Homo sapiens: one gene and its partner. The protein of the gene in region 2 purifies or fractionates together with the protein of the main gene of each other region. This does not show direct contact. Each region holds a gene or a part of one and is shown on either strand. Other genes may lie near its edges.

Region 1 (6,043 bases), on a different chromosome or scaffold from region 2:
CCCCTGCAGGACCCAATCCAGTTCTGGGACAGGAGTTGTTCCAGGTAAACAAAGTCTATTCCATACATTTATTTGTTCACTCATTCGACAATGATCTATGAAGCACTTACTATGAAGCAGACCCTGTGCTAAGCTCTGGAGATAAAACCATGAGCAAGGCCTTAACATCAGGGCTTCTGCTTCCAGGAAGTCATGGGCTAGCAGGGAGACACATACACAAGGATGAGGCTTGGAAGGCTGGGAAAGTCTTCAGAGATAGTGAACTTCCTGAGAGGAGAGGAGGGGAGTCAAGTGTTGTGGGCCGAGGCCACAGCAGGTGTGTGCAAAGAGGTCTGGAGGGGTGAGGGAAGTTCGGAAATGAAAGGAGTTTTGCGTCTGGAGTAGGGCATGAATACATGGCTGAGAAAAATCCTGTGCTTGGTCGGTGCTGCAATTTGCTTGCTTTCTAATATGCGTGGCTTTCCACCTTCACCCACCTGCCCCCTTGACAAGAGAACAGAATTTAATTTAGAAGAATCAGAATTTATTTCACTATGTGAACATTAAGAATTTACCTACATAGTTGAAAATATTCACAAAGGACTTGATCATTCACACTCATACACAGAGAAAGTCTGCTGAATAAAAAAATGCTCCTTTACCCATTCGACCTCCTCTCAGGGGCTGCAGTGGGTTTGCCAATTCCACTGTGGGGCTTCAGTCTTCATGAATGTTGAATAGTTTGGCTACTTCATTGAGATCTTCATGCTGCTCACCGTCCTTAATGATCTGAGGGAGAGAGAGTAACAATAGGTCCCTAACTTACTCCATTGCGTTCAGGCCATGCCCACACAATGGGGCTACCTGGGGCAGTCCCCATATCACACTGGGAGGGAGTTGTGGGAACAGTTCTCTACTAACCCCAAACAAGCAGCCTGCCAACTCCCAGGTCACCCAGCCAAGTCCCAAGTGAAAAAGAATGTTCCTGAGCCAAGGCTATACCTTTGTTCTGCTCAGGCACAATTTGACCTGGCCGGGGGACAATGCATCTCAGGGCACCCGATGAAGTTACAGGAATGTTTCTAAGCCGTACTTCCCATCTTCCTCTAAGAGTTATGACAGGCACCTACCTTCCTTGCTATTGGCATTCGGTTAAAGATGTTCCATAGCACAATCCCCACGACCACTTTGTCCCTGAGGTAGAAGATGACACCTTTGCCGTAGTCCTCCCCCTGGACGGGAGCCTGTGGAACTGCCGGGGTGCTGGGAGGAATAGTAATTTCTGAGGCCTCGGACTCTGTCTCACTCTCTGATCGGATACCAGTTCCTGTGGCCAGCCCCCAAAACAAATAAACATGGAAGCAAAATCAAAACTTCAGTTATTATGAGCTTGGGAAATTCTAGAAGCCAACAGTCTTTCGAGGCCTGCTTCAAGCTACTTCTAGAGGATTTATTTCTCTATGCCCCCTCAGTAAACCCTGGCCTTCACCAGCCCCTCTCCAGTGACAAAGCCAAGGAAAGGTCTTCCTTGCCAGCTCCTGGGCACAGGGTCAGTCTGACCCTAAACTTCCCTCCCTTATTATCTCATTTTAAATTCATGCTATGAATATTTCCTGGTATCTGGATTTCTTCAAACTGCAGAAGGCTGGTTCTTGTCCTCTAAGAAATAATTCTAGAGCTGCATGGTCCAAATACAGTAGCCACTAGCCACAGCCATGTAAATGAACATCATTTCAAACTGAGTAAGATGTAAAATTCAGTTCCTTATCTGTACTCACCATGTTTCATGAGCTCAAAAGCCACATGTGGCTGGTGGCTAACGTACTGGACAGAGCAGAGATGGAACATTTCCATCGCAGCAGAAAGTTCTATTGGACAGTGCTATTAGACAGGTACTTTAGACAAAGCAGAAGGCACTTCCATTTGGAAAAACCATAGTGGAGGCATTTCTTCCTAGAGAAAGAGGGGAAGGGAAGGGTGGCATAGGAAGGGGGCACCTTGCTGAGAACCACCAGCCTCCAAATAATACTGTCCAGTCGACAAAGCAGTGACATGAATCCACTTACTAGGTTACTAGGAGAGATCAGAATTAAGGAATATGGAATACATTAGAATTACACAGGAAAAGGACCTACATATCCATATAATGTCTTGCTTTCTCCTTCTTAAACAGCACCTTGCCCTTGAGACACCTCTGGCAAAAGGATGCAGAAGTTAAATAACTTGAGCTAAGGTCAAGGAATAAGGTCTCGGAGTTAATGAAAGAGACATGTGTGGGAGAGAAGTCCATTCCAAGAGAGGTGCCTCCCATCTAAAGAAAACCTGGCACTAAGATCTGCCAAATGGAATGGGAGGCAGCTAAATAACTACTCAGCCCAGTTCCTCCCTGCGCAGGACCCATGGAGGATAGCCAGTCTTAAGCTAAGCCTATCAGGCCGTGTTCTTGAGATTCGCCTGAAGCAAAATAATAAAAATGACAACTGAAAGAAAGAAAAATAAAAACGCAATCTAAAAAGTTCAGGTTTTCTTGTTTTCTTCCTTAGAAAGGTCTTCCCAGAGACACACAAAACAGCAGTGTCATTGAGCTAGCCACTGTCCACTGTCTAGGACAGATACCCACAATATTTGAATCTATGCTTTGACCAGGATACCTGATTTTGCCAAATCTCAGACCACTAAAGAGTGAGGACTTGGGGTTTGGTTTCTTTTAAAGCACAACATGAAGAGAGGCTTTCACTGACAAGCCCCTCTGGCCAATACAGAAACCCCTTGTTCAGGAGAATCTGGACCACTGCTTCTCAACACTCTCCAAGAGGAGTGCTAGGACTTTCTTACCTGACTGCTCTGTGGCAGATTTGGGGTTGTCTTGTGCAGTTGCTTTTGCAAAAACACCAACTGTGGGCAAACTACTGTCCACAAGACCAATAGCTTCATAGCCAACATCGGGGCCCAAATCACTCCTAAGAAGAGAGAAGAGGGTGTTCTGTCAAGGGACTGTAAGGAATGACACGGTAGCACATATTCTCCATGACACTGCATTTTTTTTTTTTTGAGACGGAGTTTCACTCGTTGCCCAGGCTGGAGTGCAATGGGTGCGAACTCAGTTCATTGCAACCTCTCCCTCCTGGGTTCAAGTGATTCTCCAGCCTCAGCCTCCTGAGTAGCTGGGATTACAGGCACCCACTACCACCCTGGCTAATTTTTGTATTTTTAGTAGAGACGGGGTTTTACCATGTTGGCCAGGCTGGTCTTGAACTCCTGACCTCAAGTAATCTGCCCGCCTTGGCCTCCCAAAGTGCAGGGATTACAGATGTGAGCCACCGCACCCGACCAACACCGCACTCTTATGCCAACCAAAGAACTTAGTATGCAGATCACGAGAGATGCCAACTGATCTGCTGTTGCTAGAGCATCTAGGGATGACCATGAGAAAGTAAGATTAACCCTAATAGCTTTGACTTTTCCTTAAAAAGCCATTATACACGACCACATATCCATGCGGTGATTGAAACGTTCTTGAATTTATTCGTGCTTTTATCCCATGCCACATTTGGAAAGTGATGAGGTTCCCACTTTTGCTATTCACTACTTTTGTCTTGAAATTCCCTTTTTGAAGCTTTAAAGAGTGTTCCACATTTATGGAATTCAGAATTTGAGATGTTTTATGGCTTCATTAACCTACAGTATTTCCCCTTAGCCTCCACTTTTCTTTTTTTTAACTTTTAAAAACTTTTTATTTAAAAAATTCAGACGAGCTCTTGCTATGTTGTCCAGGTTGGTCTCGAACTTCTGGGCTCAAGCAATCCCCCGGCCTTGGCCTCCCAAAGTGCTGGGATTAGAGGCATGAGCAACCATACCAGACCAGCCTTCATCTTTTAGGACTGGAATGCTTTCTGACACTCCTTTTTTTTTTTTTTTTTTTTTTGAGACGGAGTCTCGCTCTGTCACCCAGGCCGGAGTGCAGTGGTGTGATCTCGGCTCACTGCAACCTCCACCTCCTGGGTCCAAGCAATTCTCCTGCCTCAGCCTACCGAGTAGCTGGGATTACAGGCATGCACCACCACGTCCAGCTAATTTTTGTATTTTTAGTAGAGACGGGGTTTCACCATGTTGGTCAGGCTGGTCTCAAACTCCTGGCCTCGTGATCCGCCCACCTCGGCCTCTGACCTATTTTGCCGGAAGTGCTGGTGCCATCTCCATTCATTCACCTAGTCTAACATACGCCAGACAGAACACTTAAAATAATTTTTTTCTCTTTTAATGTTTTACAAAAGGATCAGTTTGGTGAAAAACTAAACAGGACACTTCTGCCAGATGGCTACCTGAGGGTAGAATGTGTGGACATAAGATGGACTTTTTTCCCTTCTGTATGAAGCTAACTGGCTCATAATAAAACCAAACCATAACTCTGTGTTATGGTCCTAGAGATACTGAGTTGTAATCAGTTGGGTCTCCAAGGCACACCACTATTACCAGAACATTGACTGATGCCAGTACGGCTTAGCAGCTCCAGTCATATTTTCTCCAGCCAATCTTCCACTCACAACAGCGTGATCATGGTGCTCTACCCGCCTCCTTCCCAACTTTATATCGTAGAAGCATGCAGCATCTCCTGCCTGTGGAAACAAATACATAACATGAACACATGATAAAAAAAAAAAAAGCAAGTTAAAGACAAAATATAAACTTTGGGGGCTCAAAGAACACTTGTAATGGTAACTAATTCATGTTTTCCATCTACAGGCCAGAGTTGTACTTAAACTAACAAAAACAGCTGATAACCCATTTAAATTTTTTTTTTTTCTTTTAGACAGGGTCTCACTCTATTGCCTGGGCTGGAGTGCAGTGGTGCGATCATGGCTCACCACAGCCTGGACCTCCAGGCTCAGATGATCCTCCCGCCTCAGCCTCCCAAGTAGCTGGGACTACAGGAATGCACCACCATGCCTGGCTAAATTTTTTTTTTTTTTTTGGTAGAGATGGGGTGTTGCCATGTTGCGCAGGCTGGTTTTGAACTCCTGGGCTCAAGCAATGTGCCTGCCTCAGCCTTCCAAAGTGCTGGGATTACAGGCATGAGTCACCACGCCTGGCCTGAGATCTCATTTTAAAACATCTATTCCAGGCCAGGTGCAGTGGCAAATGCCCGTAATCCCAGCACTTTGGGAGACCAAGGTGGGTGGATCACAAGGAGTTCGAGACAAGCCTGGCCAATATGGTGAAACCCCATCTCTACTAAAAATACAAAAAATTAGGCGTGTGTGGTGGCAAGCGCCTGTAATCCCAGCTACTTGGGAGGCTGAGACAGGAGAATGGCTTGAACCCAGGAGGCGGAGGTTGCAGTGAGCTGAGATCGTGCCACTGAACTCCAGACTGGGAAACAGAGCGAGACACCGCCTCAAAAAAAAAAAGAAAAAAAAATCTATTCTGCTTCCATAAAGCTAACCTAAATCTTCTATAGTTTTGTTTACTTATGTCTACTTCCTGTTCTTTCCTTAACAGACAGGATATTTAATAACCATGATTTGCAGAATATTCTTTTCTATATGTAGAAACCAGTTTTTGGATGTGACTGCCTCTCACCTAGAAATGTTTTCTTAGATTTCTTTTTGTCACTCAGTATTCATTCATTCGACAAATATTTATGGAGTACTTATTATATACAAAAGTATTATGTTGTCCGGGTTGCTGAGACAAAACTGACATGGACCTTGACTATGAGGAGCATACAACCTAGTACAGAAAGATACAGCCTTGCTCACAACTACAGAGCAATGTAAACAGTAGTGTGCCATATGAGAGGTACAGATTAAAGGAGTCAAGTATTTCAAGCAGAGGGCGAGAACCTCCAGCCGGGGGTGAACTGGACCAGCTTCATGAAGGATGTGGCATTTGAGCTCTCTAACCCTTTGTTCATCTTTGTGGCTATTTAGACTCCCCCAAAGCAACCTAAAAATCCAACGAGTGAGCAACCGTAAACTGTGAAATTCGCTTAATGGAATATATAGTCATTAAACTGTTTACAAAGTCTGAAGCAACATAGAAAATGCTTACATTTATGGTGTTA
Region 2 (3,448 bases):
ATGTTTCCCTTTGAGTGGCCACTCTTCCTCTGTCCATGCCAGGAAACCTCTGACCCCAGAGACCCTTGGCTATTCATAAGAGAAACTATTAGCCAGTCTGACTCTAGCTGTTTACCCAGCCCCCCTCTTTTCTGGAATAAACACCTTCGTCAGTCTCCTATTTGTATCCTAGGGACCTGTTGCCCACTGCCTACCTTCCCACTATCCCATGTCTGTTTTATTTGCTACCTGCAAGTTTGTTTATAAATAATCACAGTTTCTCATTTTGTTTGGTTCTTAGGCATCTGGTGTCGAAGGCTCAGATATTCCTGATGATGGTAAACTGATAGGATTTGCCCAGCTCAGCATCAGCTAAACCACAACCCTGGAAGAGGCGGCCTAAGGAGATTCCACACATGCGTATCTCTGTTGCTTCTATTGGCCTAAACCCACTACTGCCAAAGAACCCAGCAACAAACCTCCCGGCTAGGAGCTTTAGAAGTCTTTATGTTCTTCCTGCCATCATTCCTCCTTTTCCCACAGGGAAAGAAAAGTTGGATCACTAGTGGCCAGCATCCCCAGAGTTCCGTTAGTAAACTTACTTCATATGTCCCCTGTCTTCCTCCATCTGAGAAGTGGCCCATGTGCTTCAAGGCCCAGGAGGGAGATCTGTCAGCTCATTCTTGCCTTACTCCAATGATGGCCCAGGTGGAAAAGTAGCAGCTGTATCGGGCTTCCTCATCCTGCCTGTTCCCCCACACCTGCCAGGATATGGACATCTTGGGATATCTCTTTACCACTGAAGTAGAATTGATTGTTCAGCTGGAGCCCAGAGAATTTAATTTAATGTTTTTTCTTTGTACCTGATGTGAATTCTAGCAACCTTTGTTAGGAAAAAGCACAGCCTCAGATGGAGGCAGCCTAAACTGTGTTCTTGTTTTGTTCATGGTGTTTCTAAGCGTTTTGCTGAAGCTGCTCTCAGGCACCCCCTTCTTCATTGCTCTCTCCAGAAAGGGTTGCTAGCCTTAACTTCAGCTGGTGCAAAACATCTGACTGTAGCCGAACTTCAGCCATCAGATCCTTCAAAGTGGAACTTTGGATTGTTTTTACAGACAACATCGAGTAATGGCTTGTAAATGTGAATTTTGCCAGAGGTGGTTTTTGAACAGGAAAATCATAATTCATATCATTGGAGAAGTATTTATTTTCAAATATCAAATTGAAGAAAAACTCAATCCTCCCATGAAAATCAGTTCGCCTGGCCTCCAAGTCGTGAGGAAATGGGTATGCAAGGCTGAGATTTCTACAGCAATAAAGGAGACACACACTGGGCCAGAGAGGCCTGCCTTCTGCCTGCTCTCCTGCACTGACCCTTTGGAGGGGGTCTCTGTGTGCTGAAGCTAACTCAAGATGGAAAGTGAAACCACATGTGCCGTGACCTTTAGGTTTTATGAGTAGACAGTGTTCATTTGATTTTCTACAGAAATAATATAAATTATTCTTTAGGTTTAAAAAAGAGCACTCATAATGCAATATGTGAATAATCAGTGAGGTTGATTTTTCTTTTTTCCTACCGTTTCATAGTCTTTGTCTAACTGCTAGTAACCCTACCGAGTTTTATATATGAGTGGGATACTCAATCTGGCCTTAAAAAGATACACAAAGATGGGCTGTGGGTCCCTGGAAAGGGGGAGAGTTGCCCTTTACAGAATCACTCGAGCCCTTTCCAGCACTGTTGGTCTGATGAACAAGGTTGTTTTACCTTATTTTCTCTTGGAACATATCTGAAAACCTTCCCCACAAATAACTTGTCACACCTTTTGTTTCATTCTGAGTCTTTAGTTTTAGTCATGGGCTTTCTTCACCTGCTCTAGGTGCAAAGGCATGTTGGGAAAGAGATGGATGTTGGGGAGGAAGAGAGGAGATGGATTTCAGTTGGGAGTTAGGAGGAGAGTAGGTGAGATGATCAGACACCGGAGTTCAACGTCCCAGCAGTCTTGGTAAAAGGAGGGAGCCTGCTGAGCCAGGAGGGAGAAAAGAAGATTGACCAGCTTGCTAGAAAAATACTTAGCTTTTCTTTTTCTTTTTTTGTGGAGGGGGGACGGAGAGGAACAAGGATGGGGAGGTAGGAATGAGGTATAGAAAAGAGATAGCATCTTCTTTGGCACAAGACTAGTGGCTTACCGCTTACCTTAGAGTTTTGTTTTTTTTTTTTCAAACCCATCAAAATCTACTTATTTATGAATCCAAGGGGTGGCAGCATCACTCTGTTCTAGCATTCTTTGTGGAGATGGTCTGGTGCCTAGCTGGGAGTGAGCAGCAGCCCATCCCCTGTTCACTTTCTCTAGCCCATCATTACCTGTGAACTGCAGTGGGGCAGTCATGGCAAATAGAATTGGGCTGGGGTTTCTCCTTCTTTTCAGTTCATTGTTTGCCCTGCTAGGAATTAGAAGACAGACACCATGTCCCAGGACAGTGTTACTTCTTCTGCATGATGTGTGGTAGACTCCCTTTGCTGGCTTGTGCAGTGATACTGAGAAAATACATGAACAGAAACTGCCCAGGTGGAACAGCACGTAACCTAGTGAGTGACTGTACTCCTTTCTAGGAATGCTGATTCAGAGTGCACCTCTTTGACTAGGTCCCAGGATCCCCTTGTCCCTGGAGTAGGGACTAACTATAGCACAAAGTAATATGTGCCAATGCTATTTGTGAAATGTTTGGTCTTTCTAAACGACTAAAGGATTTGTTGGGTTTTTGCTTAAGTTTTGAACCAAATCCTAGAGCCAGCTGATAATATTTAATAATCTGGAGGAGAGAATAATGATGTACCAATAAGTGGAGATTCCTCCTTATGATGTATGCTAGGTTATGGAAGATGTAAAATATTCAACTTTTTCCTCCTTTTTTTGGACTTTGTATTTTACTGCATGTTTTCTTCATTTTTAATCAATAAAGAGTAAATTGTCCTTAGTGGTGTATGGACGCTTTATTTTAGTGGCCGTTGGCGGAGAGCTGTGGGTTGTGGGTCAAGGAATCACCACCAACTTTAATTGTTCATGCGAATAGAAGCCAAAGTACATATAAACTGTAAAGTGTGTCTGTTGATCTACAAATTATCTAGAACCATTAAAGCCATTATATAGTTGGGGAAACTGCAACCCTAAAAGGGAGGGATGAGATCAGCCCAAGGAATTGGATAGGATGGGATATGGAACTCCTTTTATTATCTTTTGATCTTTTTTAAATCTTTGGTTTTGCTTATGCTGTTGGGCAAGGAAGGATGCCAGATTCAAGCCCTTGGGAGTCTCTTTCGAAAGTTCAGAACAGGGCTGAACTTATCTCTTCTTGGCTTTGATATTGCAATGGTGAAGTTACATGTAAGATTCTAGGCTCCTTTGTATTCCTGTTATCCTCCCACTGCAGGAGGAATCTTCCCTCATCATCTGCCCTTCCCAACAGCAGTGGC

Evidence for each region.
Region 1: the proteins of OXSR1 (region 2) and AIFM1 purify together in Homo sapiens (affinity purification with mass spectrometry; 2 studies listed by BioGRID and IntAct, with this or other methods). This does not show direct contact.

Annotation. Positions count from the first base shown.
Region 1 is NC_000023.11:130,128,861-130,134,903, forward strand, and holds the end of AIFM1 (apoptosis-inducing factor 1, mitochondrial isoform AIF precursor), read right to left. Parts: intron 4,596-6,043; coding exon 4,453-4,595; intron 2,940-4,452; coding exon 2,815-2,939; intron 1,307-2,814; coding exon 1,110-1,306; intron 769-1,109; coding exon 697-768; 3' UTR 502-696; downstream 1-501. UniProt on the Homo sapiens protein: Functions both as NADH oxidoreductase and as regulator of apoptosis.
Region 2 is NC_000003.12:38,252,537-38,255,984, forward strand, and holds the end of OXSR1 (serine/threonine-protein kinase OSR1), read left to right. Parts: intron 1-280; coding exon 281-355; 3' UTR 356-2,948; downstream 2,949-3,448. UniProt on the Homo sapiens protein: Effector serine/threonine-protein kinase component of the WNK-SPAK/OSR1 kinase cascade, which is involved in various processes, such as ion transport, response to hypertonic stress and blood pressure.